Regions from separate parts of the Homo sapiens genome. Here region 1 is linked to region 2. Evidence: fine-mapped expression QTL. A gene starts in region 2. The other region holds a variant in brackets. All regions are shown on one strand. Distances are between the middles of the regions. Region 1 has its middle 26 kb from the start of POLA2. Region 2 holds the start of SLC25A45 (solute carrier family 25 member 45).

What was found.
Region 1: its variant is fine-mapped to the expression of SLC25A45 in whole blood (TOPMed, PIP 0.94).

The regions. Positions count from the first base shown.
Region 1 is chr11:65,231,736-65,240,056 of GRCh38, forward strand. It overlaps the pseudogene SLC22A20P. Among named protein-coding and RNA genes, the nearest start is that of POLA2, 26 kb to the right of the region's middle. The variant C/A (reference allele first, on the strand shown) is at 5,110.
Region 2 is chr11:65,377,609-65,385,929 of GRCh38, forward strand. It overlaps SLC25A45 (solute carrier family 25 member 45), which reads right to left and starts at 5,038. Exons shown (of 7, transcript NM_182556.4): 1 at 4,878-5,038; 2 at 4,307-4,361; 3 at 2,524-2,567; 4 at 2,259-2,330; 5 at 1,768-1,953. The coding sequence starts at 4,343. It also overlaps a transcript of FRMD8 not described here. RefSeq lists enhancers at 4,147-4,675, 4,224-4,353, 4,341-5,540, 4,484-4,763, 4,676-5,203 and 4 more and a silencer at 6,170-6,464.

The DNA of each region.
Region 1 (8,321 bases), 150 kb before region 2:
TTCTGGGATTACAGGCATGAGCCACTGCACCTGGCCTCAATTTGGATTTGTCTGATGGTTCTCTCATGACTAAACTGGGATTGTGGATTTGGGAAAGGAGAACCATGGAGGTGATATGACCTTCTCATCATATCATATCATATCATATGAGGGCATATATGATGTCAACATGACTGATTACTGGTGATTTTGAAGTTAATCCCTTGGTTAAGGTAGTGTCTACCAGGTTTCTCCACTGTAAAGTTAATAAATGTTCTCTTTCCATATTCTTGTTTTACTTTTCAATTTTAATCTATTTATTTATTTTGAGACCAGGTTATGAGACTGGCGAATTTTTGTACTTTTGGTAGAAATGGGGTTTCACCATGTTGCCAAGGCTAGTCTTGAACTCCTGGGCTGAAGCAATCCACCCACCTCAGCCTCCCAAAGTGCTGGGATTAAAAGTATGAGCCACCATGAGCAGCCTCTTTCCATATACTATTATTTGAAAGTGAGTCCAGTCCACACTCAAGGGGAGGGAAACTAAGTTTCATCTCCTGAAGGAATGGATTTTTTTGTTTGTTTGTTTGTTTTGTTTTGTTTTGTTTTGTTTGAGATGGAGTCTCCCTCTATTGCCCAGGCTGGAGTGCAGTGGCGCGATCTCGGCTCACTGCAACCTCCGCCTCCCAGGTTCAAGCAATTCTCTGCCTCAGCCTCCTGAGTAGCTGAGATTATAGGCGCCTGGCTAATTTTTGTATTTTTAGTAGAGACGGGGTTTCACCAACTTGGCCAGGCTGGTCTTGAACTCCTGACCTCATGATACACCCGCCTTGGCCTCCCAAAGTGCTTCGATTACAGGCATGAGTCACCGTGCCCAGCCTAGGAGTGGAGTATTTACACACATTGTTTGGAGTTCTTCTTTAAGAAAGACTTATTTATGAAATCATTTATTTATATAGGCTCATGTGTAACCATGTAGTTTATACTTTGGGTTATAATTCAACAACGTTTTTCCTTTATTTAGTAGATACTACATTCTTTACCTTATTTCCCAAATTCCTCCAGCTTTGGCCATTGGGAGCTCTTCCACATTGGCTCCTGTGTCCTTTGACCTTCCTCCATCTTCTTCTCTTTTTATTTTTTAGCACTGCCTTAATTTCGGCGCTGAGGTGGGTACTGCAGAGAAAAGCAAACACTCCAGAACCCATGCACTGGATCCAGGAGTGGGTGGTAGAAAGGGATGTGGAGGGAGGGGTCTGAGCTCTAATACTAAAGACAGAGACTTAGGAGACCGTGAAGGGGTGTTTATGGAAAGTCAGGGAATTTTACCTCCCCGAGGAGAGGAATCCTGTGTCATCCACCTTTGTGTCCCCTCCCCTGGGCTCACAACAGTGAACCATGGGGTGAACAAGGACCATTCCACTGCCTCTCCCAGGTTCTCCAACTCTGTGGCTTACTATGGCCTGGCCATGGACCTGCAGAAGTTTGGGCTCAGCCTATACCTGGTGCAGGCCCTGTTTGGAATCATCAACACCCCGGCCATGCTGGTGGCCACCGCCACCATGATTTACGTGGGCCGCCGTGCCACGGTGGCCTCCTTCCTCATCCTGGCCGGGCTCATGGTGATCGCCAACATGTTTGTGCCAGAAGGTGAGTCACCCACTTCTGCCCTTGCTGCACACCAAGAACTGGGAGCCTCTGGGGTCTGGTAGACAACAAATTTCACATGGCAGCAAGGCTGAAGGGTATGTCTCCGGATCTGAAAAGAAAGCAACTGTTAGGCTGGGCACGGTGGCTCACGCCTGTAATCCCAGCACTTTGGGAGGCCAAGGCGGGCAAATCACCTGAGGTTAGGAGTTCAAGACCAGCCTGGCCAACATGGTGAAACCCCGTCTCTACAGAAAATACAAAAAAATTAGCTGGGCGTGGTGGTGTGCACCTGTAATCCCAGCTACTTGGGAGGCTGAGGCAGAAGAATCACTTGAACCCAGGAGACGGAGGCTGCAGTGAGCCAAGATCGTGCCACTGTACTCCAGCCTGGGAGACAGAGTGAGACTCAAAGAAAAGAAAAAAGAAAAAGAAAGCGACTGTTGATTACTAGAGTTTGTATTAAGCACTTAGTGCCCAGTGGCAATTAGTGGCAGGTGGAGGTCTTGAGCCTTGGCCCTCAGAGCTTCTACTGTGTGGCCAGGGAGGTTAGACAGGTGCACCTAAGCAGCTGGAGAGCACAGGGGCTGGCTCGGTGTGGCCAGCAGTGTGTGCGGCCCCCCGAAGTCTGAGCAGGCAGCATGTCCAAGGGTTGAGAAGTTAGGATTCAAACCTCAGCTGGACTGGCCCTGGAACAGTGGTTTGCAAACCTGGCTAAAATGACCTTCTCCTGGAGCGCTTTGAAAACTCCCAGGGCCCAGGTGCTCCATGCCAGCGCCCTGGGAATCTCAAGGAGTGGAACTCAACCCTCAGTATTTTACAAACTGTCCAGTGAGTCCAGCAAGACGCCAGGGTTGAATAGCAGCGACATAGAGCATGGGCCAAACCATGTGCCCATTGTGACTGCAGCCTTGGCCGTGGGCAGGTTGTCCAACTTCTCTGTGCCTTAGTTCTTCACCTGTAAAATGGATAAATGTTATTATTGGTGTCTTGACCTATTTCATTCCAATCTTTTTTCCTATTTATAGATTTGTATTCAGCATAGTTGAGATATTTTATATGTTTATACATACAAAAATATAAATAGGATACATACATATATATGTATATATGTGCATGTGTACATATATATATATATATATATATATATATATAGTGCCCTTATTTCATTATATGTTGAAACATACACATTCTTTTCCATGTTAGCACAAATGTTTCATGGACCTGATTTTTTTTTTTTTTTTTGAGATGAAGTCTCATTTGTTGCCCAGGCTGGAGTGCTGTGGTGCTCACTGCAACCTCTGCCTCCTAGGTTCAAGTGATTCCCCTGCCTTAGCCTGCAGAGTAGCTGGGATTAGAGATGCGTGCCATCATGCCCGGCTAATTTTTGTATTTTTAGTACAGGCGGGGTTTCATCATTTTGGCCAGGGTGGTCTCAAACTCGTGACCTCAAGTGATCTGCCCACCTCGGCCTCCTAAAGTGCTGGGATTACAGGCATGAGCCACTGTGCCTGGCCTCATGGACCTGATTTTTTATTGCTATGTGATCCTTCCCTCCCTCCCTCCCTCCCTTCCTTCCTCCCTCCCTCCCTTCTTCCTTTCCTCCCTTCTGCCTTTCCTCCCTCCCTCCTTTTCTTTCTTCCTTTCTTTTTCTTTCTTTTCTTTCTTTTTTAAGACAGAGTCTCACTCTGTGGCTCAGGCTGGAGTACAGTGGCACAATCATGGCTCACTGCAGCCTCGACCTCCCAGGCTCAAGCAATCCTCCCACCTTAGCCTCCTGAGTAGCTGGGACTACCGGTGCATTCCACCACACCTGGCTAATTTTTTGTATTTTTTGTGTAGAGACAGGGTTTTGCCATGTTGCCTAGTCTGGTCTCAAACTCCTGGGCTCAAGCGATCTGCCTGCCTTGGTCTCCCAAAGTGCTGGGGTTATAGACGAGAGCCACTGCACCCAGCCTAGATAATATTTCATCTAGATTGATGTTTCTAACTCTGGCCTCACAATAGAATCTCTTGGGGACCTTTAAAAAATACCCAAATTTGAGCCCATCCCCAGTAGGTCTTGCTAGAGTGGACATTGAGTAAGACCCAGGTGTGAGTGTTTTATAAAATCTCCCCACCTGATTCCAATGTGCAGCCAGGGCTGCCACCCAGCCAGAGAAGGCACCATCATTTCCTTGACTGCTGTCCTAACGTTGGATGTTTGAATAGGGGTTTTGCTACTTATAAACAACAGCGGGAGAAGCATATTGAAAATGAGGACAATGGGCCGGGCGCGGTGGCTCATGCCTGTAATCCCAGTACTTTGGGAAGCCAAGGCAGGTGGATCACCTGAGGTCAGGAGTTCGAGACCAGCCTGGACAACATGGTGAAACCCTGTCTCTACTAAAAATACAAAAATTAGCTGGGCGCGGTGGTGCACACCTATAATCCCAGCTACTCAGGAGGCTGAGGCAGGAGAATTGCTTGAACCTAGGAGGCAGAGATTGCAGTGAGCCAAGATTGTGCCACTGCACTCCAGCCTCAGTGACAGAGAGACTCTGTCTCAAAAAAAAAGAAAGAAAGAAAGAAAGAAAATGAAGGCAATGGCAAACATTTAATGGGCACTTTGCACACCTGGCATTGTGTCCAGCTTACGCCAACCCCATGAAGCAGGTGCTGCTATTTTCCTTATTTTACAGATGAGGACAGGGAGGTGCAGAGTGGGTAAGAAACACTGACCTAGGTCAGCCAGCGGGGTGAGAGCTGCAATTTGAACCCAGGCCTGACTCTAAAGCACCTGCCTACCCAGCAGGACTTGGTGACAGATGCAAATAAAGGAGCAAGGAGGGAGAAGTCAGAGAAGGGCAGTCAGGGGACTCCTGGGTCCTAGGAACAGTTGGGAAGGGGAGGTGGTGGAAATCCTGGTTCTCCTCTGGGTTCTGAGTGGGCTCTGCCTCTTCCCCCCACCTCGCCCTATCCCCTCCTGAGGCTCCACCCTTCTCCACTACACCCTGGGCCTCCCTCTCCTCCCCTCCTCCTCAGCTGCACCCTACTCCCCTGTCTAGGCACGCAGATCCTGTGCACAGCCCAGGCAGCGCTGGGCAAAGGCTGCCTGGCCAGCTCCTTCATCTGTGTGTACCTGTTTACCGGCGAGCTGTACCCCACGGAGATCAGGTGGGTGCATGGGGGGAGATGCTGCAGGTTGAGACCTGTTGGGCTCACCGAGGCAGGACCCCTGGTCCCTCCTGCCCTGTCCTCTGACACTCAGGGCGTGGCCCTCTTGGGCCCCTAGGGGTGCAGGTTGCTGCACTGACCCATCCCCATCCACACACCTCCCACAGGCAGATGGGGATGGGCTTTGCCTCTGTCCACGCCCGCCTCGGGGGCCTGACGGCGCCCCTGGTTACCACACTTGGGGAATACAGCACCATCCTGCCACCCGTGAGCTTTGGGGCCACCGCAATCCTGGCTGGGCTGGCCGTCTGCGTCCTGACCGAGACC[C/A]GCAACATGCCCCTGGTGGAGACCATCGCAGCCATGGAGAGGAGGTGAGGGGCCTCCAGCACCAAGAGGCCGAAAGTTACAGGAAATAACTGGGGGGCAAATGGGGTGCCCTCCCCACTCCTGCGTATCGGAAATGTCCTGGCCAGATGCACCAGAGCTGTGAGATGCCTCCCCCACCTCCATCTGCACTGGCTTAGCTTTCCCCAAGAACAGACCCAATCACGAAGGTAGAAAAGAATAAACCGTGAACAAGGAAACACGTGGGTTGGAAGTGAGACGTGGCAGAGAAGTGAGGAGAGGAGAGCGGAGGAAAGTGAAGCAAAGACAGGCTCCCATGGTTGCTGTGCAGGCTTCAAATTTGGTTCTGGGCTTCTTCACAACAGAAAGGGAGACCCCATTCATGGCTGCTCTTGGAAAGGAAAACAAATACCAGTCCCTCAGGAGAGTGAAGCTTTCCTTAGCATTTAGCACTAGGAGAGGTTTCTCTTCACTGCTTGGCCCCCCACCCCTCTTTTCTTTTTTTTTTTAAGATCATCTTGGCTTCAAGTGTGGGTCTCATTAGAAAGGTCACTAAGGTGACAGCAATGTCCTGGACAATGTTTCTAAAACAAACTCAAGAGGGGACTTGATCTGGCTGCTTCTTGCAGCATTTCTCAGCAACAGTGGGCTCAGGGAAGACCCTTAGTTTGCGGGAATGGTGACAGGAACAGTAGCCGCGCCCGTCTGTAACCCTCTCTGAAGGTCAGCTTGATCCCAAAGGTGGACCCATCTGTACCCAGTGGCCTGTATAGGTGCTGTGTTTGCAACCCTGAAATAACTCCCATAAACATTCCATCTCTAACCTGAGCCATGGGCCAAGGCTGAACTGCAAGAGATCAAGGATATATTCTTTGGCAAGTCCTATCATTTCTTTTCTTTCTTTTTTTTTTTTTTTTTTTGAGACATTGTCTCACTCTGTCACCCCGGCTGGAGTGCGGTGGTGCGATCATGACTCACTGCAACCTCCGCCTCCCGGGTTCAAGTGATTCTCCTGCCTCAGCCTCCCGAGTAGCAGGGATTACAGGCGCCCGCCACCATGCCCAGCTAATTTTTGTATTTTTAGTAGAGATGGGGTTTCACCATCTTGGCCAGGCTGGTCTTGAACTCCTGACCTTGTGATCCACCTGCCTCGGCCTCCCAAAGTGCTGGGATTACAGGCGTGAGCCACGGCGCCCAGCCCAAGTCCTATCATTTCTGCCTCCAGAATAGACTTAAATCTGTCATTCTCTCTCCAGCCCTGTGTCCATGGCCCTATATCAAGCCACCATTGTCTCTTGTCTGGACAACTACGAGAGCCTCATATCTTCCCCTGTCCCTGTCCACTTTATTCCCTGCAGGCCAAGTGGGGGAGGACAGTCTTCATCTGGGTGCTGAGCAGGGCTTGGAGAGGATGAGGGTATGGGAGGCGGAGTGTTAAAGTGCATGTATGGGCCAGGTGCAGTGGCTCACACCTGTAATCCCAGCACTTTGGGAGACTGAGGTGGGTGGATCACCTAAGGTCAGGAGTTTGAGACCAGCCTGGCCAACATGGCGAAACCCTGTCTCCATTAAAAATACAAAATTAGGCTCTTGCTACTTCCTTCTTCCCGCTGCCGGGAACACAAGCAAAACGTTGAGGGCTGCAGCAGCCATCTTTGACCATGAAGTAACCTTAAGAAAGGAAGCCATTCTCCCTCTCCCTCTCCCTCTCCCTCCCTCTCCCTCCCTCTCCCTCTCCCTCTCCCTCTCCCTCCCCCTCCCCCTCCCCCTCCCCCTCTGGTCTCCCTCTCTTTCCACAGTCTCCCTCTCATGCGGAGCCGAAGCTGGACTGTACTGCTGCCATCTCGGCTCACTGCAACCTCCCTGCCTGATTCTCCTGCCTCAGCCTGCCGAGTGCCTGCGATTGCAGGCACGCGCTGCCACACCTGACTGGTTTTGGTGGAGACGGGGTTTCGCTGTGTTGGCCGGGCCGGTCTCCAGCCCCTAACCGCGAGTGATCCGCCAGCCTCGGCCTCCCGAGGTGCCGGGATTGCAGACGGAGTCTCGTTCACTCAGTGCTCAATGGTGCCCAGGCTGGAGTGCAGTGGCGTGATCTCGGCTCGCTACAACCTACACCTCCCAGCCGCCTGCCTTGGCCTCCCAAAGTGCCGAGATTGCAGCCTCTGCCTGGCCACCACCCCGTCTGGGAAGTGAGCAGTGTCTCTGCCTGGCCGCCCATCGTCTGGGAAGTGAGGAGCCCCTCTGCCTGGCTGCCTAGTCTGGAAAGTGAGGAGCGTCTCAGCCCGGCCGCCATCCCATCTAGGAAGTGAGGAGCGCCTCTTCCTGGCCGCCATCACATCTAGGAAGTGAGGAGCGTCTCTGCCCAGCCGCCCATCATCTGAGATGTGGGGAGCGCCTCTGCCCCGCCACCCCATCTGGGATGTGAGGAGCGCCTCTGCCCGGCCGCGACCCCGTCTGGGAGGTGAGGAGCGTCTCTGCCCGGCCGCCCCGTCTAAGAAGTGAGGAGACCCTCTGCCTGGCAACCACCCCGTCTGAGAAGTGAGGAGCCCCTCCGCCCGGCAGCTGCCCCGTCTGAGAAGTGAGGAGCCTCTCCGCCCGGCAGCCACCCCATCTGGGAAGTGAGGAGCGTCTCCGCCCGGCAGCCACCCCGTCCGGGAGGGAGGTGGGGGGGGTCAGCCCCCCGCCCGGCCAGCCGCCCCGTCCAGGAGGGAGGTCGGGGGGGGTCAGCCCCCCCTGCCCGGCCAGCCGCCCCGTCCGGGAGGGAGGTGGGGGGGTCAGCCCCCCGCCCGGCCAGCCGCCCCGTCCGGAAGGGAGGTTGGGGGGTCAGCCCCCTGCCCAGCCAGCCGCCCCGTCTGGGAGGTGAGGGGTGCCTCTGCCCGGCCGCCCCGACTGGGAAGTGAGGAGCCCCTCTGCCCGGCCACCACCCCGTCTGGGAGGTGTGCCCAACAGCTCATTGAGAACGGGCCAGGATGACAATGGCGGCTTTGTGGAATAGAAAGGCGGGAAAGGTGGGGAAAAGATTGAGAAATCGGATGGTTGCCGTGTCTGTGTAGAAAGAAGTAGACATGGGAGACTTTTCATTTTGTTCTGCACTAAGAAAAATTCTTCTGCCTTGGGATCTTGTTGATCTGTGACCTTACCCCCAACCCTGTGCTCTCTGAAACATGTGCTGTGTCCACTCAGGGTTAAATGGA
Region 2 (8,321 bases):
TAGCATCCCACCAAAGAGGCTTCTGAGTGTGGGAAGGTGGGTAATGGGGGGACTTGGCAGGTGCTAGGGCTCTTAGAATCGGCAGAAGCAGATGCTACACAGATTTGGGATGGAATTGGGGCTGGAGTCCTGGTGAGGGTCAGTGCTGGGGGGATGTAGAGGGCGATGGGGGCAATTAAGATTTGGGTCAGAGATGCCAGTAGGTCAAGATAGCTTTTGGAGTCCAGGTGAGAATCGGGGTCCATGTCAAGGCTAGCCTGTCTCTGAGGGATTTATCTGTTTTTTGCTTGTTTGTTTTGTGACAGGTACATGGGCTCAGTTCCTCAGCCCTGGAGATGGCTGATGGCGACGGGGGCTGGCGGTCGCCTCTGGTGGTGGGTGGTGGTACTTAGGGTGTGGCAGGCCAAGTCTTCGCTTGTTTACTTTGGTCCCAGGAGTAAGGGTCGTAGGTTAGGTACCATCCCTTGGGAGATGGGGCCTTGTGCCACCCTCTAGAGCGTGCTGGCAGGGCTGAGCTCAGGGCTTCAGGAGGTGTTCTGAGCCCTGAGCTCCTGGGGGCTGAGGACAGGGCTAGGCTGACACCAGGTGACAGACACCCCCACAGGGGTGGTGGAGTGTCAGATGCCATTTCAGAAGGTCAGCTTCGGCGAAGACCAGGGCAACGTCTGTGCCCGTCAGAGGCTGTCAGTCCCTGCCTCTTCTTCCCACTCCACACTAAAACACATTTTTCCTTTAAGACTCTGTTAAACTAAAGCCACAGGTTTCACTGTAAACCCAGGCTCCATCAGCGGCCCTCACAGTCCCCACTTCTGCTTTCCAAAGAGCTGGGGGGGCAGGGTGACTTAGAAGCCGGGCCTGGCCACTTAGCTTAGGGCTTCGGTTCTCTTCCTTGTGTTTGTGGGATGTGGCTCGCGGGGCTCAGGAAACCTATAGGTGGCACCTCGCACAAGAAGGGGCAGAAGAAAAGCCGGGGCCTCCGGGGGTCTCATTAATCATTAATTCATTTGAAGGAGCAGCCTGACTTTGTCCTTTGTCCTTGCTCTCTGCCCCATGAAGTGTGACAAGGAACTGGGGGCAGCTGCCCAGGAGAGGGCGACCCTGGCTTGCGGCTGGGGTGTCAGTGGGTGCCGGGCGCACCCTCTCCCTGCTTATGCTCACAGGACCCATTCAGCACCGGTTCCCACTGGCGGCAGCTGGTCCCTCTTCCCTCCATCCACCCCTCTAAAGCCCAAAGCCCAGATGACGGCAGTGCCTGAATGGTTAATGCCCTGCTGGGCTGGGCCTCAGGTGAGGCTCCCAGGTCATGGGCACCCAAGCACTGCAGGCAAAGTGTAGAGCCAGGCAGGGCCAGGGGAGTGTCAGGACCTCATCAGGACCCGGCCAGAGGGGCTGGGCTCACAGCTCTGCGGGGTGCTGGTGGTTCTCCAGGGTCAAAGGTCTCCTTGGGGAGTGGGCTCCCCACAGCTCTGAGGCTGGCAGACCCCTCTGGAGGGGGGCAAGCCCCGTCAGCTGGAGCGAGTGGCCCAGGCTGCTTCTCCCAGCACCCTCTTGGCACTGCCCACCAGCTGTCTCTGCCTTTTGCCCCCTCTGTTCCCCACAGCCCTCCCCCAGAGGCCTGCAGCCTGGAAGGCCATAGCACAGGCCTCTTGTTCCCCTCCAAGAGGCCTATGCCTCCACAGCTGTGGGTCGCCAGGGCAGGGTGGGAGAGGACAGATCGAGATGACCATCCCTATGACACCTGTGTGTGCCCACTCACTGCCCCCTCACCTGCAGGAACCCCCCGGTGCAGCCCGCTAGGAAGATGTGCATGTAGCTGGGCGGCTGGGCCCGCCGCTCCTGGTGGGAGGTGGCCGTGAGCACCAGCAGGGTGTTGCTATAGACCCCAAACAGGACAGAGTTGACCACAGCTATGCTGGCAATGGGGAAGCTCATTCCCTTGAAGAAGCCCAGGAGCTGCAGAGAGACACAGTGGCAGCGGAGTAGGCACCGTGGGGCCTCCCCTTTGTCCTCTCCACCCCTGGCAAGGCAGCCTCTGGCTGGAAACTGCTCCCAAGTCCTGCCACAGGGAAGTGGGGACAGGCAGGGATGGGCTGAGGCTGCGCCTCTGGGGTGCTAAGCTACCACCCAGGCCCCCCAAGGATCCCAGACTTGGTCTTCTCTCCTCCAGGAGCAGAACCCTGCTGGAGAGGGAAGCTGGTACCAACAGCCCCAGATGCCTCCCCGAAAGGGGAAGGACCCCAAAGGAGTGGGCCACTCACGGACTCATGGCGGTAAATCTTGACCATGCAATCAACGATGCCCCGGTAGGTGGTCTGGGTCTGCAGCCTCACCTGGGTGGGAGGACAGAGCAGGTAGGGTGGCGGGATGGGCAGGTGGGCCAACCTTTCCCTCTGCCCCCTCAAGCGGGATGCCAACCAGCAGGAGAGGCAGGAAAGGCAAGATTAGCCAGGCCTGATCTCAGGGCACCCTGACATTTGGGTCAGGTGAGATCTTTCATTCCTCTGGCAGCTCTCCTAAACTCACCTTTACAGTGTCAAACGGGTGTCCCAGGACCAAGCCCAGAGCGCCTGTGGTGACAAGAGGGTGCTATGAGTGAGGGCCCTCGTGCCAGGCCCAGGAAGCAAGTCTGTGCCAAGAGGAAAGAGGGGTTCAGGCAGGAGGAAGGAGAGCAGGGCCATCTCAGACACATGCAGCCACCTTCCTGCCAAGCTCTAGAGACTCCAGCTGCCCCTGCCACCCCCTCCACACAGGCACTGGGCCAGGAAGGCACTGGGACAAGGGACTAAGACCCCAGGCCCCACCTGAGGATGCACACCCAAGAGGGAAGAGCCAGCCAAAGACGTACGTGTCCTCGCTGGAGCCCATACCCGGGTATCCCACCGCCTATGAGCCGCGGGACTCTGGGAGAATCACCCAGGTTCCCACCTCTCCGAGAGCTTTACTCTTCTTTCTTCAACTCATAATGTCGTCGCCGGGATCCAGAGCAGGCCCTGCTGCCAGCTGGCCACGCAGAACTGCAGGGCCCTGATGGGGGTCATGCCTGGGCACCTGCAGAGGAGCTTCTCCCCTCCCCTCCACCTGCCCACTGCCTAGCCCTGCCCTCCACAGCAGAGGCTGGTTCTGGAGTTTGGGGGAGGTCGCACCCCCAGGAGGCAGGTTCAGAACGTCCCTCTCTTTCTCCTAAGAGGAATGCCACCCAGAAGCTGGGCTGGGACCACAGCACAACAGGCCTCAGGGCCCGGGACTGCGGCCCACAGCCAGGTGGGGCAGAGGCCCAGAGGGGACTCAGGACAGCAGGTGAGGTCAAAGGTGAACTTCCTTTGTAAGCCCAACAGGGTGGGCCTGGAGAGCAGGGCTCAAGGTATAGGGTGCTCACCTGGCTCTCCCGCCCTCTGCAGGTGTCAGGCAGAGTGGCCTTGGAAGGCAGAGGCAGCACCCTCCCACCTGTGCCTTCCTCTCTTCTTCCCATCGGCCACTCCCCAGAGGACTGGGGACAGCTGGCTCTGGGGTGCTCCACGGAACCCAGACTTTTTTTTTTTGACACAGGGTCTTGCTGGTGTTGTCCAGGCTGGAGTGCAGTGGCATGATCATGGCTCATTGCAGCTTCAACCTCCTGAGCTTAAGGGCTCCTTCCACCTCAGCCTCTGGAGTAGTTGGGACCACAGGCGTGCGCCACCGCGCCTGGCTAATTTTTGTATTTTTAGTAGAGACGGGGTTTCACCATGTTGGCCAGCCTGGTCTCGAAATCTTGACCTCATGATCCACCTACCTCAGCCTCCCAAAGTGCTGGGCTTACAGGCATGAGCCACCGCGCCCAGCCTCTCATTTCTTATAAAGACAGGGTCTTCCTATGTTGCCCAGGCTGGTCTCAAACTCCTGGCCCCAAGTGATCCTCCTACCTCAGCCTCGCAAAGTGCTGGGATTACAGGTGTGAGCCACCATGCCCTGATTCTTTTTTTTTTTTTTTTTTTTTTTTTGTGGCAGGGTCTCATTCTGTCACCCAGGCTGGAGTGCAGTGGTGCAGTCATAGCTCACTGCAGCCTTGAACTCCTGAGCTCAAGCAATCCTCCTAAGTAGCTGGGACTACAGGTGTGAGCCACCATGCCCAGCTAATTATTTTGATTTTTTTGTAGAGACAGGGGCCTCCCTATGTTGCCCAGACTGGTCTCAAACTCCTGGGCTCAAGTGATCCTCCCGCCAGGCCGGAACTCAGACTTTGGTCTCTGCTCCTCCCATGTCACCCATCTTCCCGAGGAAGTGACCTACCATTGGGTGTGATGTGACAGAAGGAAGAAAAATGTCTCACCAGAGATCCAGCCAGCCACAAATTCCTCCACCGGCATTGTCTGGGCTTGCGGGAACTGGTGGCTCCAGCAGAGGAGACAGAGTTGAATTCCCCCCTCTCCCTCCCCTGGCCCACGCTGATAACCTCCCACTAATGTTTAACCCTGGCGGGAAGGTGAGAATTGGCCTGGTGCCCAGACCTCCGGCAACTGGCAGAGGAGAGCGAGCCAGTTCCGGTGACCCTGGCCACCTGGAGGAGTCGTGCAGAGTACAGTCTCACGGGCCAGGCGTGCCGGGACCACAGAGGCCCTGATCCCCGAGCCCGGCCAATGATCCTCGCTCTGAGGATGGCAACTGGGTTCCTGCCCCATGGTCGGGCCCCTCCAGGGCTGCCTTAGTCAGCAAGAGGCAAGCCCCTGCCTGCCCAGCCAGCCCAGCTCCACTCCCATTCATCTCCACCAAGGGGCATGGCCGCCCCCATGCCACAGAGAGAGGCCGGGTGCGGAGGTAGCGTGGCCACCAGGGGGTAGGCCCAGCCCGCATTTGCCGCTGCGTGGCAGGGTGGGGAGGAGCCACTCCCAGGAGTGACTCACCAGGCCTGGCTGTTCTCTTCAGGGTTGTTTACGACTCCCCCGACTCCCCCGTGTGAGTCAGAAACACAGCCTTCCTCGGCTTCCTCCTTCCCAGGGGAAAGATAGGGGTTTTGATTATTTAAAGTGCGTGTTGATCTGCAATGGCACCATTCTGCTCAGTCAAAACCAAAACCCTTTCAAGGATCTGTGAGCCACAGGGTGCCGCCCATTCTCCTCTGACCTCACGTCCTGCCACCCACCCCCTTGCTTTCTCTGCTGCAGCCACCCGAGCCTCCAGACTCTTCTTCAGTCAGCCTTCTGTCTCCAGGCCTGTGGACTGGCTCTTCCCTCTTCCTGGGCACTCTTGCCCTGGCACCCCTCCAGCTGGGGCTCAAATGTCACCACCTGGGTGAGGTCTGCCCCGCCTCCCCAGCCGGAGGCACTGCTGGCTCTTCCTCTCTTTCTCCATCACAGTTATCACGCCAACATACGATGGGAAGAACTTGTCTGTCTGGACAGGGATCTCTGGGTGTTCTGTGCACAGCGGGTGGCACAGGGTGGGCTCTCAATAAATCCTGAGTGACTGAATGAACGGAAATGTCAGCCAGCAGCATCAGCGGCAGCCTGGGGCTCCAGTTCCCTCTTCCCATCACCAAACGGCCCTGGGAAACATCAAGGCCCAGTGACACCTGCACCCTCCCCTCCAGATCTCCCCGCAGCTCCTAGTCTCCCATGGGGGACGCCCAAGGCCCAGTCCTTCTCTCCCTTCTCCTCTCACTGTGGCCAAGGCAGAACCCACCCACCCCTGCTGCTTTCTCCCGGGTGGACAGATTCGGGAAACAGGACCTCCTACCTCCTGCCTCTGGAGCTGCCTGGGGCTCCTTGGGCCACCCCCAAAGATCATCCTAAAAGACCATCCCCAAAGACTGGCCTCTCGTGGTGGCTTGGGCTGCAGTCCTGGTTCTGCTTCTTATTCCTGAAACTGCCTTTGCAAAAACTATAACTGATACAGGCCAGGCGCAGTGGCTCACGCCTGTAATCCCAGCACTTTGGGAGGCCGAGGCGGAAGGACCACCTGAGGTCAGGAGTTCGAGACCAGCCTGACCAACATAGTGAAACCCCATCTCTACCAAAAATACAAAAATTAGCCGGGTGTGATGACGGGCGCCTGTAGTCCCAGCTACTTGGGATGCTGAGGCAGGAGAATCGCTTGAACCCGAGAGGCAGCTGTTGCAGTGAGCCAAGATCATGCCACTATACTCCAGCCTGGGCAACAGAGCGAGACTCCGTCTCAAAAAAAAAAAACAAACAAACAAACAAAAAAAAAACCCTCCTGTCTCTCGTACAGCCAGCTCTGCATGAATTAAACTCTCCTTATTGCAATTCCCCTGTCTTGACAAATTGGCTCTGTCTAGGCAGAGGGTAAGGTGAACCCAATGGGCGGTTACATTATCTCTCTCAGTGATGTTGAGCAACCTCTTCTGTGGGCCTTGGGGTCTATTATTGTTTGCCAAAGTAGGACAGCAGTCGGGCTAATTGATGTCTAAGCCTCTCAGCTCTAAAGGCTGGAGGCCGCCTCCTCCCTCACTTCAGAATGGGTCTCATTCTCTTTTCCAATCTCACCGCCTCACCCCAGTTTGAGAAAGACCCTCATTCCCACTTCCCTACAGCCTTGCTGAAGGGAAGCCCACCTAAGCATGGCGTCATCTTGTGAATCTCTAGCTCACAACCTCCAAAATGTTCTTACTGTCTAACACGCCTGCCCCATATCTGTCATCCTGGGGTTCAAGGCCTCCCCCATGGTGCCACCCACCTGCTATGCTCTCACACAGCGGGGGTCTTTCCTGGGGTCCTAACCATGCTCGTGCAGTTCCCACTACCTGGAATGCCTTTCCTTCCCCACCATCAGCCTCCCGGACTCTCTCCCAGTGCCCCTCCTTGACTAGACCCGGGTTCTAGCCTCCCCACCACCACCGCAGACACTCCCAGGTGTCAGTCTTTGACATAAAACAGAGATGTGATACTCACCTCTTAGTGAGTTCTAAGGATTAAAGCACTTTAAAAAGTGGCTGGCACGTAAATGGCAACTGCTAATACTTATTTCCACTCTCAGGACGCATGAGAATGACACAGGAAACAGGGGAAAGGGCCTGGCCCAGTGCCCCACACACAGCAAGTGAGCAGAGACTTTTCCTGCCTGTAGCATTTCATAGTTCTTAAGGCAATGCTGTCATCTTCTGTGGTTTTATTTATTTTTTTGGAGACAGAGTCTCACTGTTGTCCAGGCTGGAATACAGTGGCAGGATGGCGCTATCAGAGCTCACTGTGAGCTCACACTCCTGGGCTCCAGCGATCCTCCCACCTCAGGCTCCTGAATGGCTAGGACCACAGATGTGTGCCACCACACCTGGCTAATTTTTGGGTTTTTTACAGATGGCGTCTCACTATGTTCCCCAGGCTGGTCTTGAACTCCTGGCCTCAGGCGATCCTCCTGCCTCGGCCTCCCAAAGTGCTGTGGTTTTAAATGTGCTGTTCTCCTGGGCTTCTTTCTCTTTCCCCTCTTCCTTAACTCACCAATTAAACCACAACAGACACTTTCTGAGGGCAGGGCCACGTCTCCCCTCAGTCTCCATCCCCTGACCTAGCACAAGCCCCGCATCCAGTAAGCATTCAAAACAACACTGAACTCTTCTGCTCCTGCTTCACTCCAGCTGGGTCAAGAGGCCATGGAGATACAGTGTGTCCTGGTCTGAGGGTCCCAGAGCTGAGAACCAGGAAGGAGATGCCTGCCCCCACTGGACACCCTTCCCTGCAGCCCACATCTGAGCTTCCTCAAGTCCTTAAGTCACATTGGCAAGGCAAATGTGATGTCATGGGCTCAGCTGTGGGGCAGTGTGGATCATAGGAGGGCAGGCAGAGCTGGTTCACATACCAAAGAAGGCTGGACTGGGTCAGGAGCTAGAGCTGCTTTCCAATCCCAGGGAACCAGGGCAAAGTGAACCCACTGCCCTCTGTTCCTGATCACCAAGCCCACTGCTGTCACTTGGGACAACTTCTGGTTCCTCTGGCCCCAGAAGGTGCCCCATGGACTTATTTTTCTCCCTGAGTTCCACATCTCAGATGCACACATGTTGCATTACCAGGACATGTCAGTGACATGGCCCTGAGGGTAGGTGGTTTCACACCTGCCTCTTTGGGGCCCCAAGTCTCCTCCCAGCCTGGGAAAACCTCAAGGTCTCCCAGGCTGTTGTGTAAGATAGTAAGGGCTCATGTCACTGCTCCCTGGAAAAACAGAGTGTCTGTCCTGGTTTTCTGATTTAGACATATATATATAAATTTTTTTTTTTTTTCAGACGGAGTCTCGCCGTCGCCCAGGCTAGAGTGCAGTGGTGTGATCTCGGCTCACTGCAGGCTCCGCCCCCTGGGGTTCACACCATTCTCCTGCCTCAGCCTTCCCGCGTAGCT